Regions from separate parts of the Homo sapiens genome. Here region 1 is linked to region 2. The links come from fine-mapping of genetic effects on gene expression. A gene starts in region 2. The other region holds a variant in brackets. All regions are shown on one strand. Distances are from middle to middle. Region 1 holds the start of MUC16 (mucin 16, cell surface associated). Region 2 holds the start of ZNF558 (zinc finger protein 558).

The links. PIP is the estimated chance that this variant, and not a neighbour inherited with it, causes the effect. A credible set is the group of variants that fine-mapping cannot tell apart.
Region 1: its variant is the best candidate, but not a certain one, in a credible set for the expression of ZNF558 in unexposed skin (GTEx, PIP 0.60).

What each region holds. Positions count from the first base shown.
Region 1 is chr19:9,061,239-9,073,757 of GRCh38, reverse strand. It overlaps MUC16 (mucin 16, cell surface associated), which reads left to right and starts at 8,007. Exons shown (of 94, transcript NM_001414686.1): 1 at 8,007-8,198. The coding sequence starts at 8,117. RefSeq lists enhancers at 2,516-3,449, 3,450-4,384. The variant A/CA (reference allele first, on the strand shown) is at 5,962.
Region 2 is chr19:8,825,155-8,837,673 of GRCh38, reverse strand. It overlaps ZNF558 (zinc finger protein 558), which reads left to right and starts at 5,370. Exons shown (of 10, transcript NM_144693.3): 1 at 5,370-5,465; 2 at 6,273-6,356. It overlaps MBD3L1 (methyl-CpG binding domain protein 3 like 1), which reads right to left and starts at 5,297. Exons shown (of 3, transcript NM_001393532.1): 1 at 5,152-5,297. RefSeq lists silencers at 4,561-4,820, 5,321-5,590.

The DNA of each region.
Region 1 (12,519 bases), 240 kb before region 2:
CTCTGTTGCCCAGGTTGAAGTACAGTGGCGCTATCATAGCTGACTGCAGCCTTGAACTCCTGGGTTCAAGCAAATCCTCCCACCTCAGCCTCCCAAGTAGCTAAGACTACAGGCAAGTGATTCTCCTGCCTCAGCCTCTCAAGGATTGCAAGCACCAGCCAAAAAGCCCAGCTAATTTTTGTATTTTTTGTAGAGATGGGGTTTCACCATATTGGCCAGGCTGGTCTCGAACTCCTGACTTCAGGTGATCCACCCTCCTTGGCCTCCTAAAGTGCTGGGATTTTCCCTTAACAAGCATCTATGGGTCGGGCGCGGTGGCTCACACCTGTAATCCCAGCACTTTGGGAGGCTGAGATGGGAGGATCACTTGAGCCCAGGACTTCAAGTTCATCCTGGGGAACATATATAGTGAGATTCGGTGTCTACAGAAAACTTTTTTTTTTTTTTTTTTTTAGACAGAGTCTCACTTTGTCGTCCAGGCTGGAGTGCAGTGGCACAATCTTGGCTCATTGCAATCTCTGTCTCCCAGGTTCAAGAGATTTTCCTGTCTCAGCCTCCCAAGTAGCTGGGATTACAGGCGCGCGCCACCACCCCCAGCTAATTTTGTATTTTTGGTAGAGACGGAGTTTCACCATGTCGGCCAGGCTGGTCTCAAACTCCTGACCTCAGGTGATCCGCCCGCCTCGGCCTCCCAAAGTGCTGGGATTACAGGCATTTGCCACTGCACCCGGCTTCTACAAAAAAATTTAAAAATTAGTCAAACGTGATGGCACATACCTATATAGTCCCAGCTACTTGGGAGGCTGAGGTGGGAGGATGGCTTGAACCCAGGAGGTAGAGGCTGCAGTGAGCCACTGCACCCCAGCCTGGGCGACAGAATGAGATCCCATCTCAAACATATAACCATAAACTTTGGATGTTAAGCATTTGCTGGAAAAAAAGAAAAAAGATAAATTAAAACAAAAAAATCCCCCATAAACTAAATGCCATGATATTTAAATACAAATCAAGTAATTCTGATGAAAGTTATGGCCAAGACATTTTACATTCTTTTTTTCAAAATCAGTCTTCAAAATCTCATCTCATGTGTATTTTACATGCACCACACATCTCTTCTGGTTTTTGTTTTGTTTTGTTTTGTTTTTGAGACAGAGTCTCTCTCTGTTGCCCAGGCTGGGGTGCAGTGGCACAATCTCAGCTCACTGCAACCTCTGCCTCCCGGGTTCAAGCGATTCTCCTGCCTCAGCCTCCCAAGTAGGTGGGATTACACACATGCGACACCATGCCCAGCTAATTTTTGTATTTATAGTAGAGATGAGGTTTTGCCATGTTGGTCAGGCTGGTCTCCAACTCCTAACCTCAGGTGATCCACCCACCTTGGCCTCCCAAAGTGCTGGGATTACGGGCGTGAGCCACCGTGCCCGGCCATAATAATACTTTTTTTTTCATTAAAAAAAAAAAAACTAAAAACAAGAAGGCTGGGCACGGTGGCTCATGCCTGTAATCCCAGCACTTTGGGAAGCTGAGGTGGGCAAATCACGAGGTCAGGAGTTCGAGACCATCCTGACCAATATGGAGAAACCCCATCTGTATTAAAAATACAAAAATTAGCCAGGCGTGGTGGCACGCGCTTGTAATCCCAGCTACTCGGGAGGCTGAGGCAGGAGAATCACTTGAACCTGGGAGACGGAGCTTGCAGTGAGCTGAGATTGCGCCACTGCACTCTGGCCTGGGCGACAGAGCGAGACTCTGTCTCAAAATAAATAAATAAGAAAAAAGAAAGAAAAATGAGGCTCAGAGAGGTTAGGTGACTTCCCCAAGGTCACACAGCAGGATGGAAACCCACACCTTCCTGTCCCTTGTCCACTCCCCTAGGCTTTGTGCCTCACTGGCTTCAGGGAGAGCAGCCATGTCATAAAACAGGTTCTGCCATGGGCCCTCAGCCTGGTTGTCCATGACACCAGCACTGACTGGAGGCCTGGTTCTCTGAGCCCCAGTTTGCTTTCGTGCAAAATGACTTTGCAATAGGCTGTGCCTTCCCTCGGGTATGGTGAGAAATTAAATTGTTAAATAAATTCCCAGGAATAAGGACAGGAAGTGTAGAGTTTCTTTCTTTTCCTTCTTTTTTTTTTTTTTTTTTTTTTTTTTTTTTTCTGAGATGGGGTTTCACTCTTGTTGCCCAGGCTGGAGTGCAATGGTGCGATCTTGACTGGTCTGGTCTGATGGTCTGGGTGGTGTCAGCTGATCCATCGAGTGCAGGGTCTGCAAACTATCTCAAGCACTGATTTTAGGTTTTACAATAGTGATGCTACCTCTGGGAGCAATCTGGGGACGTTCAGACTCTTGGACCCAGAGGCTGCATGACTCCTAAACTGTAATTTCTAATCTTGTAGCTAATTTGTTAGTCCTGCAAAGGCAGACTGGTTCCCAGGCAAGAAGTGGGTCTTTTAGGGAAAGGGCTGTTATCAGTTTTGTTTCAGAGTCAAACCATCAGCTGAATTCCTTCCCAAAGTTAGTTTGGCCTAAGCCCAGGAATGAACAAGGACAGCTTAAAGGTTAGAAGCATTTTAGAACTTTAAAGAGGGCCGGGTGTGGTGGCTCACGCCTGTAATCCCAGCACTTTGGGAGGCCAAGGAGGGCTGGTCACCTGAGGTCGGGAGTTCAAGACCAGTCTGACCAACATGGTGAAACCCCGTCTCTACTAAAAATACAAAAATTATCTGGGCGTCGTGGTGCACGCCTGTAATCCCAGCTACTCCGGAGGCTGAGGCAGGAGAATCGCTTGAATCTGGGAGGTGGAGTTTGAGGTGAGCCGAGACTGTGCCATTGCAGTCTAACCTGGGTGACAAGAGCGAAACTGTCTCAAAAAAAAAAAAAAAAAAAATTAGGCCGGGCGTGGTGGTTGAAGCCTGTAATCCTAGCACTTTGGGAGGCTGAGGCGGGTGGATCACCTGAGGTCAGAAGTTCAAGACCAGCCTGGCCAACATGGTAAAACCCCGTCTCTACTAAAAATACAAAAATTAGGTGGGCACAGTGGGGGGTGCCTGTAATCCCAGCTACTAGGGAGGCTGAGGCAGGAGAATCGCTTGAACCTGGGAGGTGGAGGTTGCAGTGAGCCGAGATCGTGCCACTGCACTCCAGCCTGGGCGACAGAGTAAGACCTTGTCTCCAAAAAAAAAAAAAAAGGAGGTTTCAAACTCTGGCACCAGGCTCCAGAAACTGTACGCTTAATCACTGGGCTTATTTGGTGGGGGGGCGGCTATGATGTAGGTAGTACATGCATTAGAATTTGTGGCGACCACCCAAACCCGGGGTATCCATTTCCCTTTGGCCTGACCCTGGGGTCCCAGCTTATGGAACACAGAGCAGGTGTTTACTTCAGCAGGAGCTGAGCAGTCCCAACACCCCTCCTCCTCCTCCATTCTGAGCACCTCTCCTCCACCCTCCAGGACCTTTTCCGTGATCACTGGGGGAAGACAATGGAATGGCAGCTTAGGGACAAAGGGAGAGCTCAGTTACTAATGCCACTTCTGGGCAGGGTTCCTGCATTCCTTAGGGGGGAAGGGAGCAACCGCTGCTGGATTCCCCGTGGGTTCAAGGAGCTGGAGGACCCAGGAGCCTAAATCTCTGCTCAGATCCTCTGAGCTCTGAGTCTGGTTTTCCCAAAAAACTAGATGGTTTTCCTTAAAAAAAAAAAAAGTTACCAGACACAAGTCAGCCGTGCCCCCGGGAGCTGCCTTTGAAAAGAGGAACCTGGCCAGGAGCAGTGCCTCACATCTGTAATCCCAGCACTTTGAGAGGCCAAGGTGGGCAGACCACGAGGTCAGGAGTTCAAGACCAGCCTGCCCAACATGGTGAAACCCCGTCTCTACTAACAATACAAAAATTAGCCAGGCTTGGTGGTGTGCGGCTATAGTCCCAGCTACTCAGGTGGCTGAGGCAGGAGAATCGCTTGAACCCAGGAGACAGAGGTTGCGGTGAGCCGAGATCGCACCACTGCACTCTAGCCTGGGTGACACAGCGAGACTCCGTCTCAAAAAAAAAAAAAAAGAAAAAAGAAAAGAGGAGCCTGGTGGCCAAGGTGCTGTCTCAAGCTTTGTAATCCCAGCATTCTGGGAGGCTGAGGCAGAAGGATGGCTTGAGCCCAGGAATTCAAGATCCAGCCTGGAGCCGAACTCACACCTGTAATCCCAATACTCTGGGAGGCTAAGGCAGGCAGATCACCTGAACTCAGGAGTTTGAGACCAGCCTGGCCAACATGGTGAAACCTTGTCTCTATTAGAAATACAAAAAAAAAAATTAGCCAGGTGTGGTGGCGAGCACCTGTAGTCCCAGCTACTTGGGAGGCTAGGCATGAAAATTACTTGAACCCGGGAGGCGGAGGTTGCAGTGAGCCAAGATCACACCACTATACTCAAACCTGGGTGTCAGAGCAAGGCTCGGTCCTCACCCCCCACCCACCCACCCCCACATAAAAAAAAACAAAAACCCTGGGCAACATATCCAGACCCAGTCTCTACAAAACAAAAAAGTATAAATCAGCTGGGCACGGTGGTACATGCCTGTAGTCCCAGTTACTCAGGAGACTGAGGCAGGTGGATTGCTTGGGCCCAAGAGTTTGAGGCTGCAGAGAGCTATGATTGCACCACTGCACTCCAGCCTGAGGAACAGAGTGAGACCCTGTCTCAAAAAAAAAAAAAAAAAAAAAAAATGGAAAAGAAAAGAAAAAGAAAGAGGAACCTGGTGGACAATTGTTTATTTTTAAATTTTCTTTATTTAAAAAGTTTAATGACAAATAATAATTGTATCTATTTATGGGGTACAATCTGATATTTTGATATTTGTATGTATATCTTGTGGAATTATTTAAGAAGCTAATTAACATAGCCATCAACTCACCTACTTATCGTGTGTGTGTGTGTGTGTGTGTGTGTGTGTGTGTGTGTGTGTGGTAAGAGCATTTAAAATAAACTTTTTTTTTTCTTAATAGCGACGTCGCTATGTAAAATAAACTCTTTTTAGCAATTTTCAAATATGTGGGCCGGGCATGGTGGCTCATACCTGTAATCCCAGCACTTTGGGAGGCCGAGGCAGGTGGATCACCTGAGGTCAGGAGTTCAAGACCAGCCTGACCAACATGGTGAAACCCCCGTCTCTACTAAAAATCCAAAAATTAGCTGGGTGTAGTGGCGTGTACCTGTAATCCCAGCTACTCAGCAGGCTGAGGCGGGAGAATCGCTTGAACCTGCGAGGCGGAGGTTTCAGTGAACTGTGATCGGGCCACTGCACTTCAGCCTGGGTGACAGAGCGAGACTCTGTCTCAAAAAAAAAAAAAAGAAATATGTAATACATTATTTTGACCTATAGTTACAATAGATCACTAGAACTTATTCCTGCTAACTAAAACATGTGTCCTTTGACCAACTAACTCTCTTCAGTCTTCCCACTTCCCCAGCCCTGGTAACCATCATTCTACTCTCTAATTCCATGAGTTTAACCTTTTTATTTTACTTATTTATTTTTGAGATGTAGTCTTGCTCTCTCACCAGGCTGGAGTGCAGTGGCGTGATCATGGCTCACTGCAACCTCTGTCTCCCAGTTCAAGCAATTCTCATGCCTCAGCCTCCCAAGTAACTGGGATCACAGGTACGATAACACACCCAGCTAATTTTTTTTTTTTGTAATTTTCATAGAGACGGGGTTTCGCCATGTTGGCCAGGCTGGTCTCAAACTCCCGACCTCAAGTGATCCTCCCGCCTTGGCCTCGCGAAGTGCTGGGATTACAGGCGTGAGCCACCTCGCCCGACCAATTTGATCTTTTCAGATACCACAGTTAAGCGAAATCGCACAGTATTTGTCTCACTGTGCCTGGCTTATTTCACTTCGCACAATGTCCCCCAGGTTCGTCCGTGTGGTCAAAAATGACAGTATTTCCTTCTTCTTTAAGGCTGTATAGTATTC[A/CA]TCGTGTGTGTGTGTGTGTGTGTGTGTGTGTGTGTGTGTGTGTATATATATACACACATTTTCTTTATCCATTTATCCATTGATAGAGACCCCAAATAGCCAAAGCCATCTCAAGCAAAATGAACAAAGCTGGAGACATCACACTCTCTGATTCCACATTATATGGCAAAGCTGGTGGGCAAATTTTAACTGGAAGGTTTTGAATACCTCCTCTGGGTGGTCCTCCTTGATTTCTCTCCACTCAAAGCCAACTCTATTTTCATTTTTTTTTTTTTTTTGAGACGGACTCACTCTGTCTCCCAGGCTGGAATGCAGTGGCACGATCTCGGCTCACTGCAACCTCCACCTCCCTGATGCAGGCAATTCTCTGCCACAGCCTCCCAAGTAGCTGGGATTACAGGTGCCCACTACCACGCCCAGCTAATTTTTTGTATTTTTAGTACAGACAGGGTTTCACCATGTTGGTCAGGCTGGTCTTGAACTCCTGACCTCATGATCCACCTGACCCAGCCTCCCAAAGTGCTGGGATTACAAGTGTGAGCCACCATGCCCAGCCCACTTATTCTTTAATTCACATATTTATTCATTTAGCAAGCATATTCTAAGTTGATAGGTGCTGGAGATAAGCAATAAGACTTAGATGACCAAGTGCAGTGGCTCATGCCTATAATCCCAGCACATTGGGAAGTAGAGTCGGGAGGATTGCTTGAGCTCAGGAGTTCGAGACCAGACTGGGCAACATGGTGAAACCCTGTCTCTACTAAAAATACAAAAATTAGCCAGATGTGGTGGTGCACACCTGTAACCCAGCTACTCGGGAGACTGAGGTGGGAGGATCACTTGAGCCTGGGAGGTGGAGGTTGCAGTGAGCTATCGCACCAGTGCACTCCAGCCTGGCGACAGAGCAAGACTCCATCTAAAAAAAAAAAAAATTACCCAGGTGTAGTGGCGTGCACCTGTAATCCCAGCTACTTGGGAGGCTGAGGCAGAAGAATCGCTTGAATCCTCCTGAGTAGCTGGGATTACAGGTGCCCACCACCACACCCAGCTGATTTTTGTATTTTTAGTAGAGATGGGGTTTCTCCATGTTGGTCAGGTTGGTCTCGAACTCCCGACCTCAGGTGATCCACCCTCCTCGGCCTCCCAAAGTGCTGGGATTACAGGCATGAGCCACTGCGCCCAGCCTGAAAACTGTTGCTGAATGCAGTCACATCGGAAGTAAAGGCTTCAACTTGTGAATTTGAGGGGGATACAATTCAGAGCGTCACAGAGAGAGAACATGAGGCTGCTGTGGAATAGCAGAGACTACCGCTTGCAGCAGGACCAGAGGCGTGATTTGCAGGGTCCAGTGCAAAGTGAAAATGGGAGCCTCTTTGCTCAAAAATTATTACAAATTATAAGATATTTAATGTTTTATTTGCCAATCATCCTTCAATAAAGCTGGGGAGGGAGGAATGTAAGTATAGGCTGGGCGCTGTGGCTCACGCCTGTAATCTCAGCACTTTGTGAGGCCAAGGCTGGCGGATCACTTGAGATAGGGAGTTCGAGACCAGCCTGACCAACATGGTGAAACCCTGTCTCTACTAAAAAATACAAAAATTAGCTGGGCATGGTGGTGTGTGCCTGTAGTCCTAGCTACTCGGGAGGCTGAGGTACAAGAATCGCTTGAACCGGGAGGCGGAGTTTGCTGTGAGACAAGATGGCACCACTGCATTCCAGCCTGGGCAACACAATAGGACTTCCTTTCAAAAAAAAAAAAAAAAGTAATGGGTAAATTGCAAAAGTGATTGTGGCCCATGAAAGTCGCAGTGCAGCTCTGGGTCTGGGGAACATTCTAGGGAGACTTTTCCTGACACCCGCAGCTGAGCCTGGCAGCTGAAACTCCCGCTCCCCTCAATGCCCATGGAGCCCTGTCTTCCTGGGAGCCCAGACAGGCAGAACCAAGGGCCCAGGGAGCCAATCAGGGCCTGGGAATAGGCGAGGGGATCCTTCCCAGCCCCGCCCAGCCTCGCAGGGATTAGGCTGACTGGGCACATTTGATACCCGCCAGATCTTAGGCACCTGGCCGCCTGGAGCTGCTGGACATGTCTCTGGGCTTGGCTGGGGGGCTGGAACGAGGGCAAAGAGCAGCCCCCAAGTCTTCCTGAAGCCGTGAATGGCTGGCCTGTGGCAGGGTGCCCCTGGAGGCCGGCGGTGGGCCCTGGTGTTACTAATGCTGAGATACCTGCTGCCCACAGGTAAGGGGATCTCTTGCTCCTTCTGGTCCTCTGGGGAGGAGGGAAATGAGTCCACAATGTCCCAGCCCATCCTCAAATGGCCTTGCATGTCAACCCCACTCCTTCCTTCCTTTTTTTGACAGGATCTTGCTCTGTTGCCCAGGCTGGAGTATGGTGGCATGATCACGGCTCACAGCAGCCTAGACCTCCAAACTCAAGTGCTTCTCCCAATTCAGCCTCCCAAGTAGCTGGGACCACAGATGTGTGCCACCTAGCTCAGCTAATTGTTTTTAAATATTTTGCAGAGACGAGGTCTCCCTGTGTTGGCCAGGTTGGTCTAGAACTCCCAGGCACAAGTGATCCTCCCGCCTTGGCCTCCCAAAGTGCTGGGATTACAGGCATGAGCCACTGCACCCAGCTTCCACTTTGTCCCCCTTTCCAGCTTGAGTCCCTACCCAATTGTCACCTCTTCTGTGTTCCCAACCACCCTCTTCCTTTCCTTCTCCCCCTTTACTTTCTTTTTCTTTTTTTTTTTGAGACAGAGTTTTGGTCTTGTCGCCCAGGCTGGAGTGCAATGGCGCGATCTCAGCAATTCTCCTGCCTCAGCCTCCGGAGTAGCTGGGATTACGGGCGCTAATGTTTTTGTATTTTCAGTAGAGATGGGGCCTGCGGACTTGGTCTTTCTGAGCCTCACTTTTCCCCATCTGCAAAAAGGGCATCATGATAATGATAATAGCATCTTGCTTGAGGGGCCTGTTGGGGCGATGCAGCTCTTGCCTGGCACAGAGGAAGTTTCAATGAGCAAGTGACCTTTGCTTTTATGAAGTGGGACGGTCACAGATGGCTTGAGGGACACAGAAGGGATCCTCTCTGTGTGGCACCCAAGAGAAACCTTATTTTTCATGCAAGCCTGGGGTGGGGGACATGTAGGATTCACAATCCCACGGGGAGCTTAGAGATATTGGCTGATGGTCTGATGGCCCCGTTTTATGGAGGAGCAAACTGAGGTTCAAAGGGTTCAGGATTTTCCCAAGGTCCTGTAGCAGGAGACGTGGGGCCAGTTCCCAATCTCTTCTCTCTTTCTCTCTCTCTCTTTTTTTTTTTTAATAATTCTTATTTTATTTTATTTATTTTATTTATTTTTTTTCGAGACGGAGTTTTGCTCTTGTTGCCCAGGCGGGAGTGCAATGGTGCCATCTCGGCTCACTGTAACCTCCGCCTTCCTGATTCAAGCAATTCTCCTGCCTCAGCTTCCCTAGTAGCTGGGATTACAGGCGTGTGCCACCACGCCCAGCTAATTTTGTATTTTTAGTAGAGATGGGTTTTCACTATGTTGGTCAGGCTGGTTTCAAACTCCTGATCTCAGGTGATCCGCCTGCCTCAGCCTGCCAAAGTGTTGGGATTACAGGCGTAAGCCACCACACCTGGCCAAGAATTTTTTTTTTTTTTTTTTTTGGTGGTGGTGGTTGTTTTTGAGACAGAGTGGAGTGCAGTGGCTCGAACTCGGCTCACTGCAAGCTCTGCCTCCCGGGTTCACGCCATTCTCCTGCCTCAGCCTCCCAAGTAGCTGGGACTACAGGCGCCCGCCGTCATGCCCGGCTAATTTGTTTTTGTATTTTTTAGTAGAGACGGGGTTTCACCATGTTAGCCAGGATGGTCTTGATCTCCTGATCTCATGATCTGCCCACCTCAGCCTCCCAAAATGCTGGGATTACAGGCATGAGCCACTGCGCCCAGCCCAAGAATTTTTATAAAAATAGAGAAAGGAGGCTGGGCGCGGTGGCTCATGCCTGTAATCCCAGCACTTTGGAAGGCTGAGGTGGGCGGATCACCTGAGGTCAGGAGTTCGAGACCAGCCTGGCCAACATGGTGAAACCCCGTCTCTAAAAATACAAAAATTAGCTGGGTGTGGTGGCAGGCGCCTGTAATCCCAGCTACTCAGGAAGCAGAGGCAAGAGAATCGCTTGAACCCAGGAGGCGGAGGTTGCATTGAGCCGAGATCATGCCATCGCACCCCAGCCTGGGGGACAGGAGCAAGACTTCGTCTCCAAAAAAATAAAAAATAAAAATAAATAAAAGTAGAGAAAAAGGGTCTCCCTATGTTGCCCAAGCTGGTCCTGAACTCCTGGACTCAAGCAATCCTCCTGCTTCATCTTCCCAAAGTGCTGGGATTACAGGCATGAGCCATCGCACCCGACCCCAGTCTCTCTTCTTTAACTGGCTCATGTTTCTCCTACCTCTCCTGGGAGGATCATGTAGTCAGTGAATGGGCATTTGTACATTGAGCCCCTGCTATGTGCCCCTGCAGGCTTTGAGGACTTACAGGACACTGGAGAAAAAGTAGACAAGACACTCAGAGGGAGCGATGAGGGATTTGGAGGTTGCATTAGTTTTCTGAGGCTGATATAACCAAGTACCATAGACTGGAGGCCTCAACAACAGAAATGTATCATCTCTCCGTTCTGCAGGCCGGAAGTTGGAGATGAAGGTGTCTGCAGGTTACCATGGTGGTTACCAGAGGCTGGGAAGGGTGTTGAGGAAGATGGATGAGGAGAGGTGGTAAAAAGATACATAATTACAGTTAGATGGGAGGAAAAAATTCAAGACATCTATTGTATAGCAGGGTGACGATAGTTAATGACAGTTTATTGTAGTCTTGAAAAATGCAGGCCGGGCTAGGTGGCTTATGCCTGTAATCCCGGCACTTTGGGAGGCCGAGATGGGCAGATCACCTGAGGTCAGGAGTTCGAGACCAGCCTGGCCAACATGGTGAAACCTCATCTGTATTAAAAATACAAAAAAAAAAATTAGCCAGGTGTGGTGGCTCACGCCTATAGTCCCAGCTACTTGGGTTGCTGAGGCACAATAATCGCTTGAACCTGGGAGGTGGAGGTTGCAATGAGCCAAGATCACGCCACTGCACTCCAGCCTGGGCAACAGAGTGAGACTTGATCTCAAAAAAGAGAAGGGAGAGAGAGAGAGAGAGAGAGGGAGAGGAAAGAAAGGAAGAAAAGAAAAGAAAAATGCAAAGAGAGGCCAGGCGCAGTGGCTCTTGCCTGTAATCCCAGTACTTTGGGATGCCGAGGTGGGAGAATTGCTTGAGCCCAGGAGTTCAGGACGAGCCTGGGCAACATTGTGAGACCCCCATCTCTGCAAAAAAATTTTTTTTTAATTAGCCAGGCCTGCAGTCCCAACATTTTGGGAGGCCAAGATGGGAGGATCACTTGAGCTCAGTAGTTTGAGAACAGCCTGGGCAATACAGCAAAACCTTCTCTACTAAAAATAAAATAAAAATTAGCCAGGCATGATGTTACGTGCCTGTAGTCCCAGCTACTCAGGAGGCTGAGGTCGGAGGATCATTTGGGTCCAGGAGGTTGAGGCTACAGTGAGGTATGATTGTTCGGCTGCACTCCAGCTTGGGCAACAGATTGAGACTCTGTCTCAAAGCAAAAAAAAAAAAAAAAAAAAAAAGGACAGAAAGAAAGTAAAGGCAGACAGCCAGGCACGGTGACTCACGCCTGTAATTCCACACTTTGGGAGGCCAAGGCAGGCGGATCACTTTAGCTCAAGAGTTCAAGACTAGCCTGGCCAACATGGCGAAACCCTGTCTCTACAAAAAATACAAAAATTAGCCAGGTGTGGTGGTGCACCCTTGTAGTCCCAGCTACTCAGGAGGCTGCGGTGGGAGGGTGACTTGAGCCCAGGAAGCAGAGGTTGCAGTGAGCTGAGATCATGCCACTGCACTCCAGCCTGGGTGACAGAGCCAGATCCTGTCTCTAAAAAATTTAAAAAACTAAAAAGGAATTAGCCCAGTGCCTGCCACATGGCCAACAGGATATGTTAGCTTTTATTGTAAAGGTAGGCCTCATTTCATTGTTACTAAGATAGGAGCTTGGCATGGTGCTGGCCCAGTGAGTCTCAGCTATCCTAAAAGCAAGGTGGTTATTACTATTAACTAAAATTGTTTGATCTGGGCTAGGATCTGTATTAAGCTCTTTGTCACCATTAGTCCTAGCAATGACTCTCCAAAATAGATGCTGTCAGACGTAACCCTAATTTACTAGAGAGGAAACAGGCAGAATTTGAGTGGCCTATCCAGGACCACACAGGATTTGAACCCAGGACTAATGATAGAGCCCACTGTGTTTCTCTAAAATTATAGCAACAGGCCAGGCGCCGTGGCTCACACCTGTAATCCCAGCGCTTTGGGAGGCCGAGGCGGGCAGATCAACTCAGGTTGGGAGTTCGAGACCAGCCTGGCCAACATGGCGAAACCCTATCTCTACTAAAAATACAAAAAAATTAGCTGGGTGTGGTGGTCAGTGCCTGTAATCCGAGCTCC
Region 2 (12,519 bases):
CTTGTCTTGTCCATGAGGCCAGTGTGAAGGGTGAGGGTCTTTATCCCTGTCACAAGGCTTGAGGCAAAACTTTGCACTCTGCCTTCTGCCCTCCAGCCAGAGAAGTTTCTAGCCACCCCCATTCGAGGCAGAAAGGGTCCAGGCATTAAGTGGTTGTCGAGCCCTGGAATTTTATATTCCTAGACTTTGTGGGTTACAACATGGATACACACTGCCGACTTCATTCTGCAGCCAGCTTCTCACATCTAACAATATATCCCGATTGTAATTTAATATAACTAAATGTACATTGACATTGTTGTTTTAAGGCCCATGAATGTCATTTCATACGGCTACACCAGTACTTATTTTGCCATTGTTACTAATCTTCTGTCATATTAAATAGGAGGTAGATGATCAATCCTTTTTAACAAGGTTCAAACATTTCTCTGATTTAGATCACTGTAAAATTGCTGGGTTGATAAATATGCACATTCGTACAGCTTTGGGTATATGTTACCAAGTACCTGCTGAGAAACTGGTACTTATCAATGCTGCTAGCAGAGGGCGAGGTCATTCATTTCTTCATGTCTTGACAAACTGGCCATTTAAAATGTTTTGCATTACTTGAGAGGCACAAACATAATGCCATTATTTTAATTTATGCCTCTTTGCTAATTAGAGTATTGGGCAGTTGTATGTATTTGTAAAGGAGTGTGTGGTTCATAGCCTTTGTCTTTGATGATGTTTTTACTGGCTTGTTCATCTTTTGCTTATTTATCCAAAATATTCTTTATGTAATAATGATATGAGCCCACATGTCATAGATTTTTACAATTATTTATCCCCAGTTTGTTTTGCCATTTAATAATGTGATGGTGTGGAAAATTAAGATACACTTAAGCTGGATACGATGGGGTCATGCCTAAAATCCCAGCACTTTGGGCAGCCAAGGCAAAGGGATTGCTTGCGCTCAGGAGTTCGAGACTAGCCTCTGTGGTGTGGCGAGTCCCTGTCTCTATAAAAAATACAAAAACTAGCTGGGCGTGGTGGTGCACGCCTGCAGTCCCAGCTACTCGGGAAGCTGAGGAGGGAGAATGACTTGAGCCCAGGAGGTCGAGGCTGCAATGAGCCATGTTTGCACCACTGCACTCCAGCCTGGGTGACAAAGCAAGATCCTGTCTCCAAAAAAAAAGAAAAAAGAAGAAAGAAGGAGGAGGAGAGGGGGGGAGGAGGAGGAAAAGGAAGAGAAGAAGGAGGAGGAGGAAAGAAGAAAGAAGAAGGAGGAGGACAAGGAGGAGGAGGAAGGGGAGGAGTAAGGAAGAAGGAAGAAAGGAGGAGGAGGAAGAGGAAGAAGAGAAGAACTCACATTTTTGTAGTATTTTACTTTTTCCACTTTTCTTCTATTATTTTGAGGAAGAAGCACTCATATTTATGTAGTATTTTATTTTTCCACTTTTATTCTCTTATTATGCCTAACTGAAGAATTTATGTGTATAATTCTACATTTTTTAAATAAAAACTTTATTGAGCTACCATAATATTCAACCTTTTAAAGTGTACAGTTTTTACACTTTTGTGTAAAATGGTTTTTAGTACATTCACACAGTTGCGCAATCGTCACCACTATCTAATCTTATTTTCATCTAAAATGAAATCCATACCATTACCCACTTCCCCTCATTTCCCTTTTCCCCAACATTTGCCACTAATCTATTGTCTCTTTGGATTTTCTTATTCTGGAAATTTTATTTAAATTGAATTATACAAAATGTGGGTTTTTTATGAGTGGCTTCTTTTACTTACCGTAATGTTTTCAAGGTTCATCCATGGAATATGTATTCTGTTTAATGGATGAATAATAATCCGTTGTGTGGATATACCACATTTTATTTATCCATTCATCAGTTGACTGATATTTGGGACATACAAAATTTTGGGCTATTATGTATAATGCTGCTATGAACATTCATGTACAAGCTGTCATGTGAACACATGTTTTCATTTCTCTTGGGCATATACTGGAAATAAAATTGCTGGGTCACGTGGCAACTCTATGACTTTTTGAGGAACTGCCAAACTATTTTGCAAAGTGGGTGCACCATTTTACAATCCTGACAGCAATGTATAAGAATTCCAATTTCTCCTTGTCTTTGCCAATCTTTGTTATTGGCTATCTTTTTAATTTTAATTATCCCAATGGGTGTGAAGTAGTATTTTATTGAAGTTTTGATATTAACTTCCCTAATGATTAATGGGGCCGAGCATCTTTTCATGTATATATTTGCCATTTGTGTATCTTCTTTGTAGAAATGACGATTCGAACTCTTTGTTCATTTTTCAGGCTGGGTGCAGTGGCTCACACCTGTAATCCCAGCACTTAGGGAGGCCAAGGTGGGCAGATCACTTGAGGTCAGGAGTTCAAGACCAGCCTGGCCAACATGGCAAAACCCTCTCTCTGCTAAAAATACAAAAATTAGCCAGGCGTGGTGGTGAACGCCTGTGGTCCCAGCTACTTGGGAGGCTGAGGCAGGAGAATCGCTTGAATCCAGGAGGCAGAGGATGCAGTGAGCCAAAATGGTGCCACAGCACTCCAGCCTAGGTGACAGAAGGAGACTCCACCTCAAAAAGAAAAAAAAAAAAAAACTCTTTGTTCACTTTTAATTGGGTATCTTTTTATTGCTGAGTCGCAAGCCTTTATATATTTTGAATACAAGTCATGTATCAGATAAATCATTTGTAAATGTCTTCACCCAGTCCATGTTTGTCTTTTTTCTTGATGGTGTCCTTTGAAGCATCAATGTTTTTTAATGTTAAGTCCAATTTATATATTTTTTCTTTCGCCACCTGTTTTTGATGTCATATCTAAGAAACAATTGCCTAACCCAAGATCACAAAGTTTGACACCTATGTTTTCTTCCAAGAAGTTTATAGTTTTAGCTCTTACCTTTAGGTCTATGATCTATTTTGAGCTCACTTTTGTACATGGTGTGAAGTAGAGGTCCAATTTCATTCTCTGTTTTTTGTTTGTTTCTTGGTTGGTTGGTTTTTTTTTTGTTTTTTTTTGGTTTTGGTTTGTTTTTTTTTTTTGATGGAGTCTCGCTCTGTTCTCAGGCTGGAGTGCAGTGGGGTGATCTCGGCTCACTGCAATCTCCACCTCCTGGGTTCAAACGATTCTTCTGCCTCAGTCTCCCGAGTAGCTGGGACTATAGGCGCCCGCCACCACGCCCAGCTAATTTTGGTATTTTTAGTAGAGACGGGGTTTCACCATGTTAGCCAGGATGGTCTCGATATCTTGACCTCGTGATCTGCCTGCCTCAGCCTCCCAAAGTGCTGGGGTTACAGGCGTGAGCCACCACGCCCAGCCCAATTTCATTCTTTTGTATATTGGCATCTAGTTGTCCCAGCACAATTTGTTGAAGAGAACAGTCTTTCCACAGTGAACTTTCCTAGTATATTGAATTTTGAACTTGTTCATTTTTGCTTAAACTTCCTTCAGCCACCTGAAAATGGATATTTTTGGGAAGCAGAGATCTAACTATTTTTTTCTGAAAGGACGGGTGCATGAAACAATATCATTCATTGAAAGTATTTCTTCCTGGCTGATTTTAAATGTTACCACTCTCTTACATAAAATTTTTTCCCTTTGCACTTACCAGTATCTTTTTTTGTTTATGGTTTTTGGTTTTTGTTTTGTTTTGTTTTTTGAGATGGAGTCTTGCTCGTCACCCGGGCTGGAGTGCACCGGCTGCAATCTCGGCTCACTTCAACCTCCACCTCCCGAGTTCAAGCTATTCTCCTGCCTCAGCCTCCCAAGTACCTGGGATTACAAGGCATCCGCCACCACGCCCGGCTAATTTTGTATTTTTAGTAGAGACGGGGTTTCACCATGTTGGCAGGCTGGTCTCGAACTCCTGACCTCAGGTGATCTGCCTGCCTCGGCCTCCCAAAGTGTTGGGATTACAAGCGTAAGCCACCAGGTCCAACCAGCACTTAGTGGTATCTAACGCACCAACCCACCATGTATTCTATTTATCACATTCACTGTCCATTTCTCCTGCCCAACTCACAACTAAAATGCACGTTCTCTGAGGGCAAGGACGTTTACCTATTTTGTTCAGTCTATATCCATGGTGTATAAAACAGAGACTTGTTGGGGGGGAGGTAATAGCATTTATTCCATGAATATGACTACGGCATACACACATACACACACATACATGTCCACACTATATCTGGAAAGATAGAGGAGAAAATTATTTTTGCCTCTGAGCAAAAGAACTGAAAGACCGTGGTGGGAGAATATTTGACTGACTTTGTACCATTCTTAAGTTTTCCTATATGTGTATCTATGACCCAGTCCTCTCCTGCTCCCCTAAACTCTTAGTGTTAAATCACTATGTTCTGCCTTGGGAAAGCAAGTTATAGACAAATGTGCATACATAATCTGATCCTATTGGGTTGTATGAACATGGGGCAGTAACTGTATCAACAATCTAGGGATCCAAGGAAGGCCCTACCCCTGAATCTGATCTCCCACAATCCTGGCTCCTGGGCCTATCCCAACCCACCCACATCATACACCCTTTTATTCATACCCAGATCCCTGCCCCTGGAACTGGTCTCCACCCACTGCCCCCTCCCCAGGCCTGGTGCAGCCCACAGTCCCGCCCCCAGAACTGGTCTCCGCCCACAGTCAGCCCCGCCCCCAGGCTTGCTGCCACCCCATAGCTCCGCCCCTAGAACTGCTCTCTGCCAATCACCACTGCCCTCCAAGACCGGTACACCCACAGCCTAGTCCCCGCCCTCCGCCCGGCCCGGAGCTTATCTCCGCCCACAGCCAGCCCCAACCTCCAGGGCTGTCACAACCACAGCCTGGTTCCCGCTCAGCCCCGCCCCGGAAATGGAGGTCTCCACCCCTGTAACTGGTCTCTGCTCAGTCATCCCCGCTCTAGAAGCCTTATACCATCCGCCCCGAGAACTGGGCCCCACCCACAGCCCCGACCCTGGAACTGGTCTCTGCCCAATCAGCCTCGCCCTCCAGGCCTGGTACGGCCTCAGCCGGTTCCCCGCCTTCAGCCCCGCCCCGGAACTGATCTCCGCCCACAACCAGCCCCGCCCCCAGGCCTCGTGCGGCTCACAGCCTGGCCCCGCCCCCAGGGCCAACCTTACCCCCGCTACTGCCCCAGGCCAGGGCCCAACTTTGTGCCCACTAAGCAAACTAGAACACCTCTGCCCAAGGCTGGGGTTCGCGGCCGCCGCTCCCGCCCGCCGCGCCTGTCGCCTAAGCGCCGAACCCCCAACACGCTCGACTCTGCGAGGCTGCCCGCGCGAGCCGGAAGGGGACGTGCAGCGCACCTCTCCCCAGACCGGAAGCGGAAGCGCGGGGCGGTACCGTGGGAGGGGCCGCGCGTGGGGCAGCGGGGAGCGAGTCCCTCCGTCCCCGCGAGTCGGCGCTTTTGGCCCCGCGGGAGGGGCCGGGCTCGGTGAGCGACTGGCGGGGGCTCGGGTCCGAGTCCAGGGGGCGACGTGGGCCGCGGACACCGCCAGCCACGGGCCCTGCGTCCCTCCAGGGAGCCGTGTTTCGGTTCATGAGGCCTCGGGCTGTGAGCTTAGGTCAGCACGAAGCTGCTGCTTGCTCCTGGGTCGGGGCCCCGCGCCGCTGTTGCCTCCTCAGGGAACCCCAGTCGCCCTCACCCGGGGCGATTCCGCACCCCAGGGGACTTTTGGCTGTAGCTGGAGACGACTGTGGTTTTCACAAATTGTGGGGAGGGGAGGCTGCTACTGTCACCTAGAGGGTGGAGGCCGGGGAAGAGGGACGCTGCTTGCTCTTAAAGATCCTACGTTGTACAGGACAGTCCCCCACAACAAAGAATTATCAGTAGTGCCAGGTTGGGAAACCCTGCTCTAGGGCCTTAAAAAAAAAATCTCTGCAGTTCTGAATAAACTACATAAATTGTTAAAAATTCAGTTTAGTCACTTAATAGGGCCTCTAAGTGACAAGATATTTTTAAAGCCTGTGGAGTCACCATAGAATCTCTCTCCAGCGTAGTAAGTTGAGCAAGTCAAATGCACACAGCGTTAAGCTGCTTTCTCCCCTCTTACGGAGCAGATGGCCAGATGGGAATCAGGTAAAGCCAGTCATGGCCCACAGGCTGGGCCCTTATTACACATTTAATCATTGAGTACCCAAAAAAAGTGAATGGGATGGTGTTTCCGGCAGCCGTATCCAACAACTGTACAACCTATACAAAGCCTCGAAAGAAATCTTTGTGTCTTTTTTTTTTTTTCAGATGAGAAAAGCATCATTCAAGCTCAGATTCGTGTTGAAGCCTGCCACAAGGTCCACCTGTTGTTGTGGGTTTTTGGGTGACCAGGTGAGTACAGTGTGGAACCTACAACAAGGTTTCAGCAGGCTCTGCTGTGTAGAAGAACTCCTCGTGGGCTTTTCCTGTGCTGGGGTTGTAACCACATTGAAGTCACTAAGAGTGAAGGTATCTTAAGGAAAGTTCAAGGTAAAAAGACAGAGGTGTTTATGGTTACATGTGTGTAAATAAGTAAATACAGTTACATGCAAATAAGTATCCACAAAACAAACATACAAATAACGTAAAGATGTGTAACTGTAGCTAAAGACAGATTTTCTGGTATGCCGTAATGCTAAAAGTTTCTGAATTTTATATAAGTATAGAAAATATTTACATGTATATGTAGTGTTACAAGTCTTCCCACTAACAACTAGCAGGACTACTTAGCAACATTTTTCAGGCCTGTTTGATTTGACTTTTTTTTTTTTTCTTGAGACCAAGTCTCACTCTGTTGGCCAGGTTGGAGTGCAGTGGCGCGATCTTGGCTCATGTCAACCTCCACCTCCCAGACTCAAGCAAATCTCCTGCCTCAGTTTCCTGAGTAGCTGGGACTACAGGCAAGTGCCACCACGCCCAGCTAATTTTGTTTGTATTTTTAGTAGAGACAGGTTTTTGCCATGTTGGCCAGGCTGGTCTTTAACTCCTGACCTCAAGTGGTCCGCCCACCTCAGCCTCCCAAAGTGCTGGGATTACAGGCAAGAGCCACCGCACCCAGCTGTTGATTTGATTTCTAAAGGCATATTGGCCCTCCACCAAACTTCAAAATATAAGGGCATTTGTAAAAAGGATGATTTATTAGTAACAAATTTAAAATTAAATTGACCGGCGACCAGATGTGTTTTGAGTAATGGGATTTTTTTTTTCCTAATGAGATTTGAAAACATTTGGAAGAATATTAAGCAACAACTTATAGATTGAAGGGTAGGGAACTGGTTTCCAAAAAGATTGTCCTCTGCACCTTGCCTCCTGTATTAGTCCTTTTTCACACTGCTATAAAGAACTACCTGAGAGTTTTCACACTGCTATAAATAACTCCCTGAGACTGAGTGACTTACAAAGGAAAGAAGTTTAATTGACTCAGTTCTGCATGGCGGGGGAGGCCTCAGGAAACTTACGATCATGGCAGAAAGCAAAGGGAAAGCAAGGCACGTCTTACATGGCAGCAGGAGAGAGAGAGAAGACATAAACGCCAAACTTCTAAACCATCAGATCTTGTGGGAACTTACTATCAGGAGAACAGCAAGGGGGAAGTCCGCCCCCATGATTCAGTCACCTCCTACCAGGACCCTCCTCTGACACATAGGGATTATTACAACTCGAGATGAGATTTGGGTGGGGGGACACAGAGCCAACGATATCACCTCCTAATAGGAATTAACTTTGTTTCTTAAAACTTCTCTGAAATAACAGTATGGTGATTCATATTGCAGAGAATCATGTTAAGTAATCTAGTATTAAATTGTGGGGTTTCTACTAATTGTGTGTGTGTTCACCTTTTCCATTCTAGCTTTCCTACAGCATTCTTGAAGGAATGTTTACTTATCATGCAATAGATATTATTTGAGTGCACAGTTAATGGTGACCAACCATCCTCATTTTTTCAGGACCAAGGGGTTTGCTAGGGCACAGGGCATCCAGTGTTCAAACCGGGACAATCCTTGGCAAACCAGGTCGCCTCCATGAGTCAGGTCCTAGGTCAGATGCACAGGGACCCTGGAGGACCTGAAATGGCCCCTGTCCTACATAAAGTTTACCTTCTAACAGGGAAGATAAATTTTAAACCATGAATGACAGGAGTGATGTGGGAGCTTGGCACTAGTGAACTTGATCAGAGGGAACAGGGAAGCTTTCTTGGGAAGGATATTTAGCTTGAGAGCTTAAGTTGTTACAGAACCAAACTGGGGTCTGCTCACCTGGTGGTGCAGTGAAACCAGATGTCTATATTGAGGGTTGCTACGATAGATAGAAAGGCTTTTATTGCACAGCACTAAGCAAGGAGGACCAGACATTAAATGTTCAAATCCTGGCCTCCCCAGTGGCTTTTAGGCAAGGAATTTTTTTTTTTTTGAGATGGAGTCTCACTCTGTTACCCAGGCTGGAGTACTGTGTTGCAATCTCAGCTCACTGCAACCCCCGGCCTCCCGGGTTCAAGCAGTTCTGCCGCAGCCTCCTGAGTAGCTGGGATTACAGGCGCCTACCACCATGCCCGGTTAATTTTTGTATTTTCAGTAGAGACGGGGTTTCACCATGTTGGCCCGGCTGGTCTTAATCTCCTGACTTCGTGATCCACCCGCCTCAGCCTCCCAAAGTGCTGAGATGATACAGGCATGAGCCACCACACCCGGCCTTTTTTTTTTTTTTAATGAGACAGAATCTCACTTGGTCACCCAGGCTGGAGTGCAATGGCACGATCTCAGCTCACTGCAACGTCTGCCTCCCAGGTTCAAGTGATTTTCCTGCCTCAGCCTCCCCAGTCCCTAGGATTACAGGCACATACCACCACACCTGGCAAATTTTTTGTATTTTGAGTAGAGACAGAGTTTCACCATGTTAGCCAGGTTGGCCTCAAACTCCTGACCTCAGGTGATCCGCCTGCCTAGGCCTCCCAAAGTGCTGGGATTACAGACATGAGCCACCGTGCCCGGCTAGGCAAGGATTTCTGAAGGCAATGGTAAGTTACAGAAAAGCAGAAGCTACAGGCAAAATCATAAAGCAATACATGGAGGTTACACACTGGTTTAGACTTAAAAGGGCAAGGATGTCTTGAAGCAGGAGCTTGTCATAGGTAGATTCAAAGATTTTTCTGATTTGTAATTGGTTAAAGAAAAGAAGCTTTGTTTAAAAATTTAGAGTCAGTAGGAAAATGTTAACTGGCTGGGAGAAGTGACTTTCTCCAAGCCCCTCAAGAAGAAACTTAGCACAAAGAACGCTGAAGCTCAGCCTTCATGTCCCGCTTATCTGGGGTCTCTGAGCCAGCAGCTCCATTTGGTGGGGTCCTCAGTGGGAGTCCCAGCCTCTGAAAGGCAACTCAGGGACGCATGTTAAGATGTTATCTTTAGTTTCCATGGGGAAAGCGAACATCTCTGGAGCCTTAACTTCTTTGGCTGTTGTTTTAGGTTACTATTACCTTCCTGTTTAACAAGTTCCATATTTACTTTTGGGGCTAGCTGGATGCTCGGAATTTCCCTTAAAGGAACTTCAGGATTTTCCTTTATTTTCCCACTTGGGGTTCACAGGCCCCTGAAAAAGGGAATTGCTGCTCCATCTCCAAGTTGGGGTCAGATGTAGCTAGTCATAGGGCTCGACTAGAGTGAGGGGACAGGGTTATGTCCAAGAGAGCACTGCCGTCGAAGAAGCTGTGTAAGGAAAGGCCCTGCAGCAGGAGAGAGGCTGCCACGCTCCCTGCACTGGGAACACAGGGATGGCTGAAGCCGAGACAAGAACAGGGAAAGAAGCTGGGCGCAGTGGCTCACACCTGTAATCCCAGCACTTTAGGAGACCAAGGTGGGCTGATCACCTGATGTCAGAAGTTCAAGACCAGCCTGGCCAACATGGTGAAACCCCGTCTCTACTAAAAATACGAAAATTAGCTGGGTGTGGTGGTGCACACCTGTAGTCCCAGCTGCTCGGGAGGCTGAGACAAGAGAATTGCTTGAACCTGGGAGGCTGAGGTTGCAGTGAGCAGAGATTGCACCACTGCATTCAGCCTGGGTGTAAGAGTGAGACTCCTCAAAAAAAAAAAAAAAAAAAAAAAAGAATAGGGAAAGAAGTGTGACCAAGACCAAGATCAAGAGGGAGGCAGAACCATACTAGGCCTCACTTCAGACTCTGTTCTCAGGCCAGTGGGAAGACACTAAAGAGTTGTGGGCCAGAGGGTGATGCAATTTGCATGTAGTGTAAGCATGCAGATAACAAGGACTTCAGGATTCAGAAGGAAGACATTTAAGAGGCAAAAGAGGGGGTGTTTGGAGGTAGTTTAGGAATCAGATGATTGCTCCCAAAAAAAATAAAATTTATTTTCTCAGCCATACTAGTCACATTTCAAGTATTAGAGCAGAATTATAGAACATTTCCATCATCACCAGAAGTTGTGTTGGGCAGCTGACATAGAGTGGCCCATCTGCTGTGACCATCCTCCAGCACTGTATCCAGGGCAGGGCAGGTGTCACAGGATCTGTAAACTGAAGAGACCCCTCCTGTCCTAGTGGGAAATTTCTGCTTCCAGACAGCCTTGAATAGGGACTTGGGGCCTGAAAATGTCCCAGGTACCTTCTCTACTTGTTTTTTTCTTGGAGGCCCAGTGAGCTGGCTGGAGGCCAACCCCCCCTCACTCCCCAGCTCAGTGACTGGAACTACTGTGTGCCTACCTGCACATTAGGTCTGTTACGGGGAAAAAGGAGATACTTCCCCCTGTAGAGGGTAGGGAAGTTCTGCAGCAGTTGCCTGGGTCTGCTGAACTCACCCAAAGGGAAGGTGTGATGTGAAAGGCATGTTAGTTTCCTATTGATGCTATAACAAACTACCACAAATTCAGGGACTTAAAACAACACACATTTATCCTCTTGCCTTGCTGGAGGTCAGAAATCCTCAATAAGCTGGAAGGCCTGCATTCCCTCTAGAGCAGGAGTCCCCAGCCCCTGGGCCACGGACCAGTGCTTATAAACAGGGCTGCACAGCAAGATGTGAGTGGCAGGTGAGCGAAGCTTCATCTGTATTTACAGCCACTCCTCATTGCTCGCATTACCACCTGAGCTCCACCTCCTGGCCGATCAGTGGCAGCATTCGATTCTCATAGGAGCCCAAACCCTATTGTGAACTTTGCATGTGAGGGATCTGGATTGCACACTCCTTAGGAGAATCTAATTCCTGATGATCTGTTGCTGTCTCCCATCACCCCCAGATGGGACCATCTAGTTGCAGGAAAACAAGCTCAGGGCTCCCACTGACTCTATATTATGGTGAGTCGTATAATTATTTCATTATATATTACTGTGTAATATAATAGAAATAAAGTGCAGAATAAATGTAATGTGCTTATAAAACATCATCCTGAAACCATTCCCTGCCCAGCCCCACTGCCGCCCCGTGCTCCATGGAAAAATTGTCTTCCACGAAACCAGTCCCTGGTACCAGAAAGGTTGGGGACCACTGCTCTAGAGGCTCTAGGGGAGAACCCATTTCCTGCGTTTTTCATCTTGTAGAGGCCACCAGCCTTCCCTGACTGTGGCTTGTTCCTCCATCATCAACACCAGCAGGGCAGCATCTTCCAGTCTCTCTGTATGTTATCTCCTCCCTGCTACACACACGCTCCCTTCTTCTCTCATCTCATCCCATCCTTCTTTGAACTGACCCTCCTGTTTCCCTTTTATAAGGACCCCTGTAATCACAGTGGGCCCACCCAGCATCATCCCCCATGTCAGGATCCTTGCCTTCCTCACAGCTGCAGAATCCCTTTTGCCATGTAAGGGAGTAGATCCAGAGGTTCTGGGGATTAGAACACAGACCCCTTTCTTGGGAGAGCAGGAAGTTAATCATCTGTCTACCACAGAGGCCCAAGAGCCAAAGACTCCCTCCAACTTGATTTTTTGACGGAACCCGAACTCACCCTGAATGTCCAGTGCCCCCATCCCTGCCCATTCACACCCTTCACTCCTTTTATCTTTTGGGTTCATGTCATGGAGGTCACACATGGAAACCTCCAGAAGCTGGCTTTATGGAGTTACGTTTTATTCTATAAATCTGGAGAAAGGAGGCTTTCTCGTCTTATAAAAAGGACACATGACATTGCTTTGTACCTTGATTTTTTTTTCACTTAAATTTATTGGAGATAATCTCTCTGAATACCTAGAAATCTTTTCAGGGGTTCTTTGTTTTGGTTTTGGTTTGGGGTTTTTTTTTCCTGGCTACATGTTTCTTTGTTATTTATTAAGTTGCTGCAAAAGTAATTGCAGGTTTTGCCATCGAAAGTAATGGCAAAAACCGCAATCACTTTTGCACCAACCTTAAAGCTATCACATAGTTTATTCACCCAATCCCCTACTGATGGTCACTTGTGGTGTTTTCAATCCTCTGCGATTATATGAAGTGCCACAGCGAATCATCTTACACGTGTCTTTCAGTATTTGTGTACCTTTGAGATAGATTTCTAGAAGTGGGTTCTAGGAAAGAACAA